2 linked regions of the Homo sapiens genome follow. The protein of the gene in region 1 interacts with the protein of each later gene in a biochemical or structural test. Each region holds a gene or a part of one and is shown in the gene's direction. Other genes may lie near its edges.

Region 1 (3,754 bases):
CAACTTGGCTGCCCTGTTGTCCTGGGTTCCTCATACTAATTTCTGCCGCCTGCCTAACCACAGCAGGACTGAAGGCATCTTGTCATGAGATGTCCAGTCCTGGCTCCTGGTTGGGCAGGACCGCTGCAGTGTCCAGGCTGATGTCCTTCTGCCCACCTGGGCCTCTCCCCGTGGCTGAAGGACAGTGAGCAATGCCTGATTCGCCCCCATCCTCTCTGCCCCCACGCGGAGGCTGAGCTCCCCCTTTTCCCATTCTGTCTGCTGGCACTAGCGTATTTTTGCAGAGGGAGGCCTCCACACTTCCCCACTGGCCAGGGCACACCTGCACACTCAGTCCTGAGGAAAACAGCCACATGAACAGTGATGCTAAGGCTTTACCCTCTTGGGTAGAGGCTTCAAAACTCTCCTTTATATAGAAAAAAGTTTTGTCCTCTTAGCCCTCAAAGCAGAAGATGGGGGCCTCTGGCTAGCACCTGAGTCATTCTTCAGTATCTACCTGGAGGGGGCCCCTACCTTCCCAGCTGGGATGCCCCAAAGCTTCAGAGCCCTGCCCTGCAGGGAGTAGAAACCCATAGATGCTGAGTGCCAGGGCTACTGTTCCACAGGGAGGGGCTGGGGAGGGCTGCCTGTGCTTACCCCTGATGGTTTCTCTTTTCACAGGTGTCTGAGAGACGGGGCTGGAGACGTGGCTTTTATCAGAGAGAGCACAGTGTTTGGTAAGAGCAGGGTAATGAGCCGTGGGTACTGACCCCTTTTATCTTACTTGATCATGACTCTGACCTTTGAGCTAATTAGATTCCTAAGTTCATGGCAGACCATTTTCAAGATTCCTACAGGGCACAGCTCTGATTTTATGATCTTTCATATTTTAAATGATCAGTTTTCTTCAAACCTCCTGTGCCTACTGCCTTTCTCTTCCCCTCATAGACACCCATGCCTAGGTGCTTGGCAATGCGTCCTCCAGTCCTCCAAGACACATGTGCTCATGCAGAACAGATTGTGCTGGTTTGTGTTTCCGGTTTCTGGGTTCATAGAGGTTTTAGTGAGCATTAGAAATCCTGCTACTTGGGTTTTCTGCTCAGCATTTTGTTTTAGAGGTTTATCGGTATTGTTGTATACATGTCTAGCTCAGGGGTCCTAACAGTTGAGGAGTGTTCCGTGGAATACATCCACCTTTTACTTCTCTGTCACCATAGTGATGGACAGAGGTTGTGCTCTCTTTTCCTCTACCACATGCAGCCACACGACTGATACCTTCACCTGTGTTCCTTACTTACGTGCTGGACAGCGTCCCTCCTGGACTTATAATAAAGCAGTTGATGAGTATGTAGAGGCTAAACACACTGCACCCAGGACTAGTGGACATAAGCTCACTACATTTCATGCAAGACCAATAGAGACAGGGCTACTATATTCCACCCAGGGCCACTAGAGAAAGTGACAGACACCCACATTCACTCAGGACCATCAGAGACACACCCCACATCCACCCAGGACCACCAGAGAAAGAGACAACACCCACATTCACCTAGGACCATCAGAGACAGACCCCGCATTCATCAGAGGCCACCAGAAACAGACCTCCACATGCACCCAGGGCCACCAGAGACAGACCCCACATGCACCCAGGATCACCAAGCTGCTGTCTGGAATGACACTCTGCAAGTGTTCTAATTTCCCCACAACTTCAGTTAGAAGTATTTTTGACTTTCATACTTTTTGTCCGAATGATGGTTGTAATGCAATAGATAGTTCGTTTTATTTTTAATTTTCATTTCTCTGACAGCTGGTGAGTTTGATCATTTCAACATATTTGCTAGCCGTTTGGGCTTCCCTTTCTTATTTTGTGACATTTGACTACTTTTTAAATTGAGTTTCACACCTTGTTTCTGCATGATTTTGATTCAAGGACAGAAGTTCCTTCTATCTAGGTATCAAACTATTGCTGATTTTAAACTTTAGTAAAACCTCTTCTCAGTCAAAAATCTGACAACGGTAGTCTCTGTTGATCAAAAATCCTTGATATTGATAAGGTCAAATCCACAAGCCTCACCTTGTTGGTTTGTAGTTTTGAGATATTTCAAAGATGCCCTTCTTCACACCCAAATCATAATTATTTCCTAAAATAAGATTTGAAGATCCCCTTCCTCATCTATTTATATGTGCTCTACCTAGAAAGTCAGATATAGATTTGGCTTTAGCATTTTATCCCCTTTACAGTGAGGCAATTTACCTTACAATAAAAAAAGTATATTTTTTCTGCCATATGTGAAGCCAATTCTACACCAAGTTTGTATATATCCAAGTGGACCAGTTTCTGAGCTATTTTATTTCATTGGTGTATTTGCATTTTTTCTGCTTTTGTTACTGTGGCTTACCAATGGGTCTTACTATCTGGTGGAGAGAAAGAGAGAGAGCCAGTGAGAGGAAGAGAGAGAGAATGAGAGAGAGCTCCCTCTCCCCTCTCACTTTATTATTCCTTTTCAAATATACTCAGCTAAAACTTCAGAATTATTTTGTTGAATTTCTGGAAAAAATCATACTTTAATTTTGATTCGAATTGTACTGAATTTAAATTGTTCCATGAAAAATCAGCATATTTATAACATTAAGTTGTCCAGTCCATGGTGATGCTAAATCTCCCCCATTTGATCACACCTCTTTTTAGTTTCTTTGATAGAACTAAAATTTTTCCTTTGTGGGTCTGATGTGTCTTTGTGGGAGGCTAATTATTAGCTACTTAATGGTTTTAGTTGCTATTGTAACATCTTATAGTCCATATTGGTTTCTATTTGGTTATTGTTAATGAGGATAACATCTGATTTTTGTAGGTTGCTCTTATAACTTGTTACTCCTCTGAGTAGTTTTATTAGTTTCTGTTGGTTTCATTGGTTTTTTGTAGATGACGATATCATCTTTTTAAATAAGAGTGTGTCTTTTTCCTTCCAGTGTTTATATCTCACATTTCTTTTGTAAATTGTGTGATCTGGATATCTAGAATTGTGCTGGCATTGTAACAGTGGGCATCCTTGCCTTGTTCCTGATTTTGCGGTGAATGTCTACATTTTCTTCTTTTAGTAAGGTTTTTGCTGTAGATTAATGGCATTTATCAAGCCAATAACTTATGGCCAGGCGTGGTGTCTCACCCCTGTAATCCCAGCACTTTGGGAGACTGAGGCGGGTGGATCACATGAGGTCAGGAGTTCGAGACCAGCCTGGCCAACATGGTGAAACCCCATCTCTATTAAAAATACAAAAATTAGCTGGGCCTGGTGGCGTGCGCTTGTGGTCCCAGCTACTTGGGAGGCTGAGGCAAGAGAATCTCTTGACTCCAGGAGATGGAGGATGCAGTGAGCTGAGATCGCACCACTGCATTCCAGGCTGGGCAACAGAGTGAGACTCCGTCTCAAAACAAACAAAAAAACTTTACCGATTCTATCTATTACTATTTTTCTGAGGCTGAAAAAAAAACCACACACAAATAGATGTTGAACACATAAACAATCGTTCTGCATCTATTAAGATGAAGACGATCTCATGGTTTTCTGCCATTAAATGCAGATTACTTTAGTTTTTTTGATGTTCAGCCATTCTTTTGTTAATGGAATACACTGGTAAACCTTCATTCCAATCTATTAGCTTTTTAAATACTCTGTGAGATTGAGTTAGTTAGTACGTTATTTACAAATTTTGCATTTATGTTCGTAAGTAAAATAAACTTTTAATTCTTCCCTCCTATACTTTTTCTGATTTT
Region 2 (3,754 bases), about 100 Mb from region 1:
TTTAGAGCTATAAAGTAATCTTAGAGATGATCTGTTCAAATATCTCATTTGAGGGATGAAAAAACTGAGGTTCCAATAGGCAGTGACTAGCTGGAGGAAATTTTCACTAGTGGCAGGGTAGAGGCCAGGACTCAGATGGCTGCACTCAGATGGCTAGGTATGCTTTCTACCACACAGACTTTTAAAGTCTTATTATGCATTCCTACTTGGATAGAAGAGTGATGATTTAAAACTACTATAATTACTCTAATAAAAACTATATTTTTATTCAAAATTTAAAGTTTAAAACTTAAGTTACATTTTCATTAAGACAAATACTAACCTTAGTTGTTTTTTTTTTTAAGTGTTTCAAATGCATTTTTAGATAAGGGAGAGTTTTACATAGGCTCAAAGTACAAGAAAGTTGTGTATCGGCAGTATACTGATAGCACATTCCGTGTTCCAGTGGAGAGAAAAGCTGAAGAAGAACATCTGGGAATTCTAGGTATGTTAATATCTCCAGTTTATCAGGTGTGGGTTAATGATGTGATGCTACCTGCAGTAACCGTCAATTCATGTCTATGGGTTTCATTTTCTTGGTTCATATATCAAAGTTGTTCAAATAAAAATTTAAAAATTAGTTATCTAATGAAATAAGACTGATGTTTATTAAATAATATGACATAGTAAAATATTACTTATTTCTCTTGGAAACTATGTATTGTCCCGTATACTGATGAAATTATATATATTTTATCAAATTGATGCCTGTAGTTTTAGTGAAGTTCCCAGAAACTATTTTCTAATGAAATTCTGTTTTTTGACAGAGTCTCACTCTGTCGCCCAGGATGGTGTGTAGTGGTGTGATTTCAGCTCACTGCAACCTGCCGCTCCTGTGCTCAAGTGAGTCTCCCACCTTAGCCTCCCAAGTAGCTGGGACTACAGGGATGGGCCACCACGCCTGGCTAATTTTTGTATTTTTAGTAGAGATGAGGTTTCACCATGTTGGCCAGGCTGGTCTCAAACTCCTGGCCTCAAGTGATCCGCCCACCTCAGCCTTCCAAAGTGCTGGGATTACAGGCGTGAGGCACTACACCTGGCCCTAATAAAATTCTTAACCAATTTATCCCCATTATCCTACCCATTCCTCTCAAATTACAGCTATTTACTTTTAAAATTAAAATATAAATGATTAATTACAAGAAGAAATATACAAAAGGAAATTAATTACAACAGGAAATAAAAGAAAAAATGATACCACGCACAAAGCAGGGGCAAAGCTGCCTTCAATTTTTTAGGACTCACTTTAAGACAGAATGTCTAGAACTCGAGCAACACTGGTCTTGAGACATTTCTTTAAAACTATCAATTGCAGGGACCCCCACTCCCATCCCCACCCCACTGTGTTCCCATACTGTCAGCATTCCCCTGAGGCTTGGTTATCCTCAACCCCTAGACTAAGACACCAAGGCAAAATGGCATTGTTGCTGGAGCACAAAAATCCTACCAGACAAGAGACAAGCTAAGATTGGATAAAGGGTAGAAATGAGAGGGGTATAAATGACTCCTGGCCAGATATCCAACCCACCATGATTAGACCGGTACTCTGCAAAGGACTTTCAGGCCAAACCTCCCCTAGAACTCTTAAGAGATAAACAAATGGTCTCCATTTTTATTTCCAGTGTATTGATTCCAAATTCCCTGGGACGCAGTATAAATCCAAGAGTATTATACCACAAACCCATGGGGGAGAGAAACAAGTTATCTTTGCTGATCTTTGCTTTTATTACTAAGTTAGACCTTCTGATTGGACACTCTTCCTCTTCACTTTTGCCAGGTCCACAACTTCATGCAGATGTTGGAGACAAAGTCAAAATTATCTTTAAAAACATGGCCACAAGGCCCTACTCAATACATGCCCATGGGGTACAAACAGAGAGTTCTACAGTTACTCCAACATTACCAGGTACTCACGGGGGCGGGGGTGGGGGTGGTGCATTTTAACAGGCTGTACAGCCTTTCCACAGATTACTCTCATCATAGAGAGTCTGGACCAAGAAAGTGAAAAGGGAGGTAGTTGTGAAGAGGGGATGCAAGGAGGTGTCTGTGTGTATGCAAGTACATGCACATGCTTGTACTAAAAAAAAAAGTCCACAGGAGAGCTTAAGAGAAAAACCTGAAGGTAGTAGACATCTATGAATCCTCAAGCGTGAATCAGAGAGATGCTGTCTCCTCGCTCAGCTAGAACACAGCTCAAATGGCATCTACCACACCATATGTGGCTGGATGTTCCCATGCCTGTCTCTAGCACATGTGGTTCTAAGGGCCAGAGGCTGCCACTTGGAACTCTAAATTCCCCCTATCTAGTACAGTATCTGGCATATATTAGGAGATCATCAAATGTTTCTTTAATAAACATAGAGTAAAATCTTGAACAGATTATATACATAGGTGAGCATTTTCTTTAATAAGAACCATATTTTTCTTCTATTAGTTGTAAAGTTGGCTTCCAGGAAAATACTATTTCTCAATAACTTAGCAGGGTGTAGCAAGGGTGCTATTTTAGGTAGAGAGGTCAGGAGGGCTTCCTTGAGGAGGTGGCATTGCTGAAAACACCTAAAGTTTGAGAAGTAATGAAATTCAGGTAATTGTGCACGAATTGATTCTAGGCCCCGAAGACAGGAGCAATGCCTGGTGTGTGTGAGCAGCAGCAAGGCAGCCAGAGGCTAAAGAAAAGCACACAAGGGACAGAATGCTAGAGATGAGATCCAGGGAGAGCAGGGGCCAGATGGAGTAGGGAGGACCTCAGACTCGAGATTTAAGACTGATGTTCTGATGGACACCTTTTAAGGGGCTGTTGGTGATGTGTGGTTAAGTGACCCTAAGGGGGCAAGGACAGAATCTGGGGTCAGTTAAGGACCACTGCAATAATCTGGGTAAAATCATCATCATCATCATCATCATCGAGATTTGGAATATGGTGGAAGCGGCTGAAGTGGTGAGATGTTATCATATTCTGGTTCCATTTTAAAGGTGGTACTAAAAGGACCTGCTGGAAAATGGGCACTAGGGAGTGTTAGGGAAGAGAGGAGTCAAGCATGACCCCAAGGTTTTGGGCACTGACCACTGGTGGAAGAGCAGGTTGTAAAGGGGTGTGGAAAAGAGAAGAAAATGTTATTTTGCAGCTTATGAGAATAAGTAAAAGCAGAGATGGCCAGACAGTAATATGTGCAGGTGGTGAATCAATACTTTATATTCTAGTGAAATTTTCTGCTTAGAAAAAGGGTGAGGACATAGGAACAGCTCAGACTGAGGCTTGAAGAAAAAGTAAGACGTCTACCACATCACTTGAGACCATCTCTGTTGTCTTGCTTGATTCTCTAGTGAATGTCTGTTGGACTCTGGCAGGTTAGTGTGATAGCATGAATATGTAATGGTGTGGTCTAAATAAATGGGATGGAAAATGAGTGTGGCTGGGATTGGTGAGTGGGCATGGCCAAAAGTTGAGGCCTGTGAGCAGTTGCACAGGAAGCCCTGAGGTGAATGGAAACGCAGATCAGACTGGAGAAAAGCCTAGAGCACATGGGAAAAGGGTAAGAGCCTTGGCAAAGCAGGAGGGTGAAGCAACTGGTCGTCTTCAAAATGCCAAGGCCGAGGGTGTGGTTATGTCCTGTATGTGGGAGTAGTGACAAAACAGCACATGGTGTGATAGAATGAGATGGACTGGAGGGGGAGGTAAACATAACTGTGTCAAGTCGGTGACTCATGAGATCAA

Evidence for each region.
Region 2: the proteins of LTF (region 1) and CP form a complex in vitro, tested with the Homo sapiens proteins (one study listed by BioGRID).

What each region holds. Positions count from the first base shown.
Region 1 is NC_000003.12:46,451,267-46,455,020, reverse strand, and holds part of LTF (lactotransferrin isoform 1 preproprotein), read left to right. Parts: intron 1-660; coding exon 661-716; intron 717-3,754. UniProt on the Homo sapiens protein: Transferrins are iron binding transport proteins which can bind two Fe(3+) ions in association with the binding of an anion, usually bicarbonate. Lactoferricin binds to the bacterial surface and is crucial for the bactericidal functions.
Region 2 is NC_000003.12:149,180,196-149,183,949, reverse strand, and holds part of CP (ceruloplasmin precursor), read left to right. Parts: intron 1-344; coding exon 345-484; intron 485-1,816; coding exon 1,817-1,945; intron 1,946-3,754. UniProt on the Homo sapiens protein: Multifunctional blue, copper-binding (6-7 atoms per molecule) glycoprotein. It has ferroxidase activity oxidizing Fe(2+) to Fe(3+) without releasing radical oxygen species. It is involved in iron transport across the cell membrane.